Regions from separate parts of the Homo sapiens genome. Here region 2 is linked to region 1. Evidence: fine-mapped expression QTL. A gene starts in region 1. The other region holds a variant in brackets. All regions are shown on one strand. Distances are between the middles of the regions.

Evidence for each region.
Region 2: its variant is fine-mapped to the expression of TRIM9 in whole blood (TOPMed, PIP 0.95).

What each region holds. Positions count from the first base shown.
Region 1 is chr14:51,091,982-51,097,358 of GRCh38, forward strand. TRIM9 (tripartite motif containing 9) reads right to left here and starts at 3,124. Exons shown (of 13, transcript NM_001387360.1): 1 at 2,137-3,124. The coding sequence starts at 2,958. RefSeq lists a silencer at 3,116-3,185.
Region 2 is chr14:50,959,726-50,965,102 of GRCh38, forward strand. LOC400212 (a long non-coding RNA gene) reads right to left here and starts at 2,602. Exons shown (of 4, transcript NR_170195.1): 1 at 1,921-2,602. RefSeq lists a silencer at 2,186-2,480. The variant T/C (reference allele first, on the strand shown) is at 2,233.

The DNA.
Region 1 (5,377 bases):
TGTCATAAAAAAAATAATAATGTTGTGGTTTACCCATCCTAATTACCTTGTGGCTCTAAATTCTTTTTCCTGACAGAGTGATTAATTTTTTAGTTCCAAGGATACTTTGTAGGGCAATTCAACATGGACTATAATTAGCAGTTTAAAAGTGAAATCAAAATATGAATAAAAAACTAGCTGTGAACTCAAGTTTTGAAAACTTTCAAAATTAAATGTCATTTTCAAAAATTTAAATTCGACTGTTCTGAAAACAGTGGTGTGTGCCCAGTTAGGCTTCAATTTGTGCTAAATGAAATCCCCATCAGTACTAATATGATTTAATAGGTTATATGTGAGAATAGAATGACTGTAAACATGGATCACATTCAACCGGGTTAAGGAGTTGAGAAAACTTTCACTGATTGCTGAAAATTAATGACATTTTTTTCTTGCTGTAAACAAAATATCAATGTTCCAGCCTTAACTCCACAGTTGGCCACTTGCAAAAGCTACCCTTTCTAGTCTCCAAGGAATTCTGGGAGACTCTGAGCAAGGCCACAGCTGAGGCCTGGACACTATCTTCACTGCTCCATCTCATCCTTGGGTATGCAACTCAGTGATGTAAAGAAAAGCTCCTTCCAACCATCCTGAATCCCTGCCCTGCACTCCACAGCCCCAACTAAATGGATCATTTAAAAAATGAAAAGCAAATTCATGCACATCTCCTCAAGAGTTGCTCCCTTCCTTCTAAGCAGTGTGGGCATATTATAAGGATCTTCTTCCTCATGAGGCTTATTTCGTTTATGTCTGTGTGTGTACAGGGAGCAATAGATAAATACAAAAAATAACATAATTAAAATATATAGCATGCCACACAGGGATAAATACTACTGAGGAAAATAAAGCTGAGAGGGAACTAGCGGGTGTCTGGGTGGGTGGCGCTGCAAAGATGATACCTGAGCAAAGAGCTGAAGGATGCAGGTAAGTGACCCATTCGGATCTCAGGTAACTGGGGAAGAGAGCTTCAGGCTGAATGAACACCAAATGCAAAGGCCCTGGAGTAGGGAGGTGCCTGGCGTCGTTTGAGGAACAGTAAGAAGCAGTGTGGCTGGAGCAGAGGGAGTAAGTGGGAGGCAATGAGGTCGAAGGGGCCAAAATGGAAGAGGTCATGTAGGACAGGCTGAGAAGCGTGGGAAAAATTGGAGGGTTTTGAGCAGAGGAGTGGCACGACAGAATATGTTGCTAAAGCCTCTTCGTGTCTAGCCATGGTGGAAATATCATCAAAAGAGACTGGAAAGATAAATCTGGTAACAGGTGTCCCAAAGTTTGCACATATAACTACTGAAAGAGGAAAGGGCTTGAATTCCGGAGAAGTGGGTGTGTGTATAGTTGGGAGGAGAAGGTTTCCCTAGGAGATGCACCTGTCTGGCTTCCAGGCCGCGACTGCGCAAACTCCGGTCCTGACACTCTAGTCTCAGGTCCCAACTCCGGAAGGGTTCAGGCCCAAGCCTGCACGTCGCGTTGCCATGGCGACCGCTGGCTGCCCTCTCCGCTCTGTCTTTTGAGCACGTGGCACCAGGACCCCGCGTTCTCTCCAGCTCGAGAGCCAGGTCTGGCCCAGAGCCGGGCTCATCAGTATTCCGCCTGCGGCGTCTCCCCGACCCTCCGCCGTGCCTCACCAGGTCCGCCTATCCAGCAGCGACAGACTCCCGCCGTCCGCGCGACCCCACCGCCCCCATCCCAGTCCCTCCCCGAGGGTTCGCAGCCCGCCCTGCCCTCGAGCGTGCCTAGCGGCCCTGGGCACTGGCGCGGCTCTACCCAGCTATGCAGTGCTTTCCCACACACTGGCCGCGGCCACTGGCTGCAGACCCGCCGCGGAAAGGGGGCGCCCTGAGTCCCGCTCGCAGGCAGCGCGCCCCGAGAGACCCGCTCTAAGGCATCCCCGCAACAACTCTGTGGGGGCATTCAACTCCCCCGTGCGCCGGTTAAGATTCCCCCATGCCTCCTGCAATGCACCAGACCAGGGAGGTAAACATCGAAGGCACCTGCATTGCGCCCCCACTGGGATGCGCTGTGCGCAAGAGACGGGGACCGTCTGCTGCAAAACCGGATGATCGGAGACGCAGGGAGTTAGGAGTGGGTTTTCTTAGGACTCACCTTATGTAGTTTCCACATGGCCCCCAGAGCCTTGACTTCGTGGCTGGAGTGTTTGCCCTCCTCCAAGCACTGGTAGCACACGGGCATCTTGCATTGCACGCAGTACATGCTGTGGTTCTCCAGCTCGTGGTCTGTGCAGGTGGAGACCTTGCGTGGGCTCAGCCTCCGGCTCACACGACCCTGGGCCGGGGGCACCAGGCGGTGCTTGGCTAGGGGCCCCCGGGGCGGGTGGCAGCGCAGGCGGCACGGATCGCAGTAGAAGACATCGCACTGTTCGCACATGACGGTGGCTTCCTTGGGCGCCTTCTCGCAGAGCTGGCACTTGAGGGCCGCGGCTTTGCTCTGCTGGTAGCGGTCAATTACCCCTTCCAGTACGCGATTCTTGGGGAAGCCGCGGAGCCCCCGGTCATCCAGGATGAGGCTGCGGTGACACTGGGGGCAGGTGATACAGGAGTTGCGGGGCACCGGGGCCAGGGCCGGTGACAAGTGGGTGGCCGGTGGCGGCATAGCCGGGGGAAACACGCGGACGCCGTTGGGGGACTTCTGGCACGGGGTAGTGGGGGCGCTGGCGAACCCCCCGTAGGAGCCATAGCCGCTGTCCGCCTCGCTGTATAGGCTCATCTTGTCCAGGTCCAGATAGTCATAGTCGGAGACCCCGGAGCCCGCGGCCCGATGGCTCTGGGGGGATTCAGACTCTGGGGTCTGCACCAGGATGTTGCGGGCGCACGCCTGACACAAATTGTGAGAGCAGGGCAGGATGATGGGCTCCCGATAGAAGGAGCCGCACACGGGGCATTTCAACTCCTCTTCCATCTCCTCCATGGGGACCGGTCTGGGAGGAGACAGCGACGGCTGCAGCGGGTGCCTGAGCTGGCGAGGTGGCCGACGGGCCCGTCTTGTCCAGCACCCTGGCCAGCGGCGGCGGCTGTGGTGGTGGTGCCTTCCCGCGCAGCACTGGCACGGACACCCAGAGAGGCGCTAGCTCTGTGAGCCGCAGCCGCGTAGCCGCCGCGCCGCGCGCCAGCCCGGACCGCCCCTACCTGCCCTCCTAGTCCCGCCCCGGCCCATGAGCAGCGGCCCATTGGGCGGGGGGCAAGAGATCGAAGCTCTCATTGGCCACCAGACCCGTCCGTCTCCTCGTCTCCGCAGGCCACAGGGGGTTCGGTAGAGTCTGAGGATAGGGCAGTCTTCGCTCGCGGCTGCAAGATCTCTGAAGGGGGCCGGCGTGCGGAGGCTAGGGGACCGGGAAGGAGGAGTTAGGCGGGATGATTCATCCTCGCCCGGCTTACTTCCGACCTCCGGTGCAGTCTCCCAGGAGCTGGGGGCGTGAGAAACCCCTCCCCGCAGCGAGTGGGCTGCCGGAGGGGGCTGGGGCTTCTCGCCAGCGTTTGCGTTTGGCTCCCAGCTCTGAGCTCCGCGCCCACCTACCGCGGGCGAGTGCTGCGCAGCACGGAGGACGCCCCTTCTCTTCCGCTGCTGGCAGCCTTCGCAGGCGTCTCACCCGGGCCTAGGCTTCTGCACGGCAGTGGGGCTTTTCTCCTTCTCCGTGAATCCGCTGACGCCGTGCCCTGGAGCTCCCCCATCCCGGGAGTCTGACGGCGCTGGCGCAAGCCCTGGCGACACTCTTGGCTTCTTTCATCCTGCGTCCCTCGTTTCCTAAAGAGCATGTATAAAGTCGATTTCCTAGTGTCGACATGAGATTCAACTGGGTAACCGATGGAAATGGTCAGCATTAGTCAGAATCTATGACCCCTTCGTTTCATGCTTTAAATTATAGCTCGGCCCAGAGGCCTCAGTGCCGTGGTGTGAACGTGCTTCCTTCCACGGATCCTTCTTCCTCCTCGCGGCCTCCCAAAGCACCTGGCTGAGCTTTTTCGAGGCCCGCTGGGCCTTTGGTTCGGTTGAGGCAAGAACAGTTTGTCTATTTCTGAGTGCCCGTAGTTTAGTAAAGCTCTGTAAATGAATCACTGTGTGACTGCGGAGTCTCAGTGTTTCACTCCAAACAGCATTATTCAACCCCACGTGCCCTGGGCATCTGCCATAGCTTACAGCATCGTGTGCCTTTCTGTTTCTTCCAACGAGGGGCATGGTGAGGCGGTGATTCTAGTGTTAGTCCCTGTACAAGGAGGGAGGGAGGGAGGGAAGAAGGGAAAGAGGGAGAGAGGGAGGAAGGAAGGGGGGGGGAAAGGAAAGGCGGAAGGAAGGGAAGAAAGGGAGGGAGGAAGAAGAAAAGGAAAGGAAAATCTTTGAGTCAAGTGACATTCTGAGGTAGTAACATTTGAAATAGTACATAGCCGGCTTTTGCTGAATGATTCATGAAGTAAAGGACAAAAACTCTTTGCAAGTTCTAGAAATATTCCAATTTTCCACCTTCCAGACAGGAGATAACTTGATTATATGCAGCTATGTTGATAATTTAAAAGTACTTTATTGTCCAGAAAAAAAATGGACATTTTATTACACTGCCCTTGTAGAAATTGTCCAATAAACTAGGTTATCTTTTCAACATCTTTAGTTGCAGTGAGAACAGTAGTTGATCATTGTGTGGGGGAATAAAGTCCCCATTGTTATTTAAAGCCATGTTAATCATAAATGTGACGTGATTTATTTTTAAGCTGGCTTTCAACTAGTTGAGACCAGAGCATCCAAAGGTATATGCACTCTGTTTACAGACATAGATAAAATTTCTTCAGGTATGGTTGGGACATTAGCTGCACTTGCAGGATACACTTAATTTATAGGTCCCAAGAGAAATTACTAATAATTATATTCAATATAGTATTAATTGAATTGTAATGAAAGTTAATTATTGAGAAAATATTAGAAAGGAGTGTCCTTTTATGGCTTTTGTATGCATTTGACCACAAGTCACAATATCTTGGACCAGCAAGGTGAGCAGCTGTTACACTTTGTATGAGTTTGAACTCTGCTTATAATAGTATATCATCTAAGAGATCTTATTAGCAGAAAGTTTATGCTTAGTTCAAAGTAAAGAAGAATTTTAGAGGATGTCTCATGGTGTAATGCAGTGTTGGGTTCGCAAAAAGAACAACACAGGTTTATAATATAGTCAATATAGAAAGATTTGGTCTATTATGAAGTCGCTTGAGATGATTTCATTGTTAGATCTGTTTGTTTAGGAATTAGCTAAATCAGTCAATCCTAGGAGAGCTCTTAAAATGACTCATTTGTTGAGAGTTCACCCTGTTCCAAACAGGGGATTTATTTATTTGTATACATT
Region 2 (5,377 bases), 130 kb before region 1:
CCTAGACTGTTTGTACAAACAATATGGTTTATGCTGAATACCACTGTCCTGCTGGAAGTCTGAAATTTTATATGTGCTAGGCAGAGGGTTTCTATGACCAGTCCCCAATAAAAACCGTAGGCTCTGTTAAGTGCATCCTGTGCCATTTTACTGGGAGGACCCTGGAAGCTTATGTCTGGTTTCCTTTGGGCTTTGCCCCATGTGCTGATTTTGCTTTGTAGCTGATTTTGCTTTGTATCTGATTTTGCTTTTGCTGGTTTTGCTTTGTGTCCTCTCGCTGCAAGAAACTGTAACTGTGAATACATTTACTTCTGAGTCCTTTGAATCCTTCTAGCAAATCACTAAACATGAGGGTGGTCTTGGGGGCCCTTGAAATGATGACCCACTAGGAAATTAAGTTACCAGATGAGTCATTACCTCTACTTTCACAAAGGCCCTTAGGATAAAGTTGGGCATATAACTCTTTGAGTAGGAGAAATATTAGAGGAAATGTGTTGTTTGGGCATTGGTTTATTCACAATCAACTCTGCCCATATTGGCTTACTCACCAATCCCCAAATCACTTAGTCTCAATCATACAAGCACTTTTCACTTAAGACTGACACTGGTTTAGGCTGGGCGCAGTGGCTCATGCCTGTAATCCCAGCACTTTGGGAGGCTAAGGCTGGCAGATCATGAGGTCAGGAGTTCGAGACCAGCCTGGCCAACATGGGGAAACCCCGTGTCTACTAAAAATACAAAAATTAGCCGGGCGTGGTGGTGCACACCTGTAGTTCCAACTACTCAGGAGGCTGAGGCGGAAGAATCGCTTGAACCCAGGAGGCGGAGGTTGCAGGTGAGCCGAGATCGCACCACTGTACTCCAGCCTGGGTGACAGAGCCAGATTCCATCTAAAAATAAATAAATTAATAAATAAAATTAAAAAAAGACTGACATTGGTCTATATAAATTAAAGAAGCCTTTTCAAAAACTTGGCAAGGAGGGAGGTAAGGGAAGAGAATAATCTCACAGAGCAGGAAATGCCTTAAAATTGGATATCAGACATCCTTGCACCCAAAGTCCATTAGACAAACACTGTCCAAGGGAATTCATTACTGGCTGTTTCTTTCCTTGGGTCTTACTCTGCTTCCATGTTTCTGCTGACCATTGTTTTGGAGCAGAATGGCTTTTACCATGTCCTCTTGTCTTGAGAACTCCAACTGCAATCTCTGAGCTTGGCAGGAGCAAAAAGGAGTACCTTAAAATGAAACCAACCAGGCCGGGTGCAGTGGCTCACGCCTGTAATCCAAGCACTTTGGGAGGCAGAGGCGAGTGGCTCGCTTGAGCCCAGGAGTTCAAGACCAGCCTGACCAACATGGTGAAACCCCGTCTCTACTAAAAATACAAAAAAATGAGCTGAGTGTGGTGGTGGGCACCTATAATCCCAGTTGCTCAGGAGGTTGAGGTACCAGAATCACTTGAACCTGGGAGGCAGAGGTTGCAATGAGCCAAGATTGCGCCACTGCACTCCAGCCTGGGCGACAGAGCGAGACTCTGTCTCAAAAAAAAAAGAAAAAGAAAGAAGAAAACAACCAGCCTCCATTGCCAGATGCTATCTGCACAAAGATGAATTACTGCACAGAAAAATTTAGTTCCACATTATCTCAGTCATCTCTGCTGAGCTGGGCTGGAGTTTTCCTTTTGCATAATCAGAGGTTCCATTAAAACATTTTAAAAACAAAAGCAGGCAGGGAGAAGAAAATAAGCAGTTTTTTTTCTGAAAACACCCTTCTGGTGTTCTCAATGCAGCAATGGCTGGAACTTAAAAATTCCCATCCTTCTAGCCATTTTACTCTCAACTCCCCTCTTTTGTTCTGCTACACCGAGAAGCATAATTTTTGTCCTCAAGAATGTGAGCAAAATGCCCTGAACATGGCTGACCTTTGAAGATCTTGCATTTCAGCCCTCAGATGCAGCAGGCACGGTGTATCCACTTCCTCCAGCCATGGTGTCACGGAGAGGGACAGTCTTCACTGGATATGAAAAGAGAAGGCAGGGTGCCCTCTTGGCTGCAACAGATATTCTCATAGCTGCCTGGGTATTATTTTGTGCAGGTCTACATTTCTGAGCTGGCTGCTGATACTGGAGTGACCCAAGCTCCCTTTTCTCTCCTTCCCAGGTGACCATGCTTCTCTGTCCCAGAGGGTGCAGCCTGTTTATTTCAACAAATTCCCTTTGCACACAGTTCTGTTT[T/C]GCAGTCCAGTCTCCTTTATGCTGACATTGATCTAAATGCTTTTTAGGCACTAGTAGGGACATAAGTGACTTTATTTTAAATGCTAATCTGCTGACTAACCCCAAGTCTGGGAATGCCTCCAAAATGTCTAGGTGATGTATTACTGTTTATGTAGGAACAGTTATTCATTGTAAGTTTCCCTCAAAACAACCCTTGATAATGTTGTAGAAATCATAGGCTGTGATGCTTATAGCCACCTACATATTCCTTCCAGAGTATAGATACTTTTTCCTCAAGATACACATCCTGGGTCTGGGCGATTGCAGTGCAGAGATTTACCTGTCTTGTAGCCAGCTGCCTAAGACCAAGCTTCTGTTTGTAAGTTCCCCCCAATAAATCAATTTATTTTATTTTTATTTTTTGAGACAGAGTCTCACTTCATCACCCAGGCTGGAGAGCAGTGGTGCGATCTCAGCTCACTGCCACCTCCGCCTCCTAGGTTCAAGCAATTCTCCTGCTTCAGCCTTCTGAGTAGCTGGGACTACAGGCACATGCCATCATGCCCGGCTAATTTTTTTATCTTTATAGAGATGGGGTTTCCCCATGTTGGCCATGCTGGTCTCAAACTCCTGACCTCAAGTGATCTGCCCACCTCGGCCTCCCAAAGTGCTGGATTACAGGCATGAGCCACCATACCCAGCCCCCAATAAATCACTTTATATCAACAGACTGAATTTGTCTGCCTCATTCTTTGGTGTCTTGGCTCCTTTGGCATTTGGGGTCCACTTTGCATTTATGACCCTTTCATGTATGCCCTGTCAAGTGGTTGACAGGATTTCTAATGCTATTGAAACTTCTAAATTTTAAGAAGCTCAAATGGGTTTCTTAGTGGGAAGTTGTAAGAAATTGTATTAGAGATTATTACCTTGATCAGCAATGGCCTGAACATTGAAGACTGGGAGATTTAATTGAGGAAACAGAAAAGAGATTGAGCTGAGGATGGCTCTGGAGGCATGGGGTAAGCTGCAGTATCGGAAGCTTTCCACACTTCGGATACTGTATTCCTGGTGAGAATTTTCGGGCACAGAAAGTAAAGTGAGGGGGTGCCAGAGAGGCACCTGGCTTACTTGAGAGCTTTGCCTGAGGTTGGCCTTGTTCACTGTCCTCCAGGACACTTGGTGGGGACTAAGACCCTACTCAGAAGAGTCTCTTTTATACCATCTTGGTGATCCTCTGGGAGGGCCAGGGCCAGCTTGCAGGGAGACCAGTTCTCTATCAAAATTTCTTCAGGTCCTGGACATAAACCATTTCAATCTATTCCAGCAAATGGGGGAGAAAGACTGACTTCCCTCTCCTCCAAAGCCACTCTTTGATCCCAGTTGATAACATCTTCTTTAAGCCATACATGCCAGTGTAGTGAGCAGATGGAGCTGAGAAGCATTGCTCAGTATTTAGTATTAGAGGTGTGTGCATGGGCAGTTGTGGTTGGTTTGTTCACGTGCACATGGAACAGCTTACAGGGAACAATAGGTGCATGGAGTCATATTGAAGAAGACATGGTCTCTGCCTCCAGGTAATGCATATTCACATAAATTACTGCTAAACACAATTTAAAACTTGAAAATCATTCAAATCTATGTTTGAGGACCCACAAAATACACACAAAACTGGAATTTTAATTTGTTACTCCAAATCCCAAGTGGAACAGCTTTGCATATGAGGACGGAAGGGATGGAGCAGCTCGCTGGGGAATGTGTGGATTCGTGCTTCTCTGCTATGTGGAAAGTATGGTTAAGAGTGAAGGCCCCAGGGCTGGGTATGGTGGCTCACTCCCGTAATCCCAGCACTTTGGGAGGCTGAGGTGGGCGAATCACCTGAGGTCAGGAGTTCGAGACCAGCCTGGCCAGCATGGCGAAAACCTGTCTCTACTAAAAATACAAAAATTAGTTGGGCATGATGGCGGGTGTCTGTGGTCCCAGCTACTTGGTAGGCTGAGGCAGGAGAACTGCTTGAATGCTTGAACCTGGGAGGTGGAGGTTGCAGTGAGCTGAGATCGCGCCACTGCACTCTGGCCTGAGCGACGGAGTAAGACTCTGCCTCAAAAAAAAAAAAAAAAAAAAAAAAGAGTGAAGGCCCTAGAACCGACATGTAAGGGTTTAAATTCCAGCTCTGTCAGTTACCAGCTGTGTGGCCTTGGGCAAATACAGAAACTTTATTTGCTATAGTTTCCTAATTTTTACAATGGGGGATAATGGTAATCCAATGACATGATGTTGTTGTATAAATTAAATGAGTTAATAAATATGAAATGCTTCAAATAGTGCCTGACACACTGAGCACTCCAGTAACAGTAACAGTTACTCTTAATACCTGCCCTAAGAAGTATTGGTGGGAACTATATTCAAGGACTATAAATCTTTTTAAGTTACTCAAAATCAAAACCCTTTGTAAATCATTTTACCCCTCCACATCCTCACTGTGAACGTAATAGCAATGTATGTTTAATTATATACTGACCATTCTCCATTGCAAGGATAAACAGCTTAAACAAGAGGAATCTCCGTGAGTTCCTCCTGCACTAGACACAGCATATTTTCTAACTTAATCCTCACAACCACCTTAGGATATGGATATTATTATCTCTAATTTATGATAAACTAAAACTATTGTTTAAGGTTAATTACCTTGTCTAAGCTCACATCTAGTAAGTGATTGACCTGGGCTGGGAACTGGGTTTTTGTGACCCCAGAGTCCACGAGACAGATTTTCAGGTGAATAAGATTCAAAGAATTAAAAAAATTTTGAAACCAGTTGTGTAGATCTTTATATCAGAAAAAAATTCCCAGCTCAGTTTCTGGTAGCTTAGAGGCAGCAATTTCTTGTGTTCATTTCTTGGGAAAGACGTGTCAAGTCAAGTTGGCTGTGGTCCCAGTTTCTACCGAGTTGTAGAAGCTATGTTGTTTTTTGAGCTAGATCAGCTGTGAGCATTTGACATTCTGAGACATAAAGTCAATATAGAAGAGAACCTCCCCTCTCACTGTTTATTCTCTGCTACGATTGTAAATGTCTCCCAGCTTTCTGCCATTTCCAAAGCATTTACTTTTGTTCAGAAAAAAAAAAAAATCCCAGAAATTAAAGGCCCAGACTAAACAGCATTCATTTATT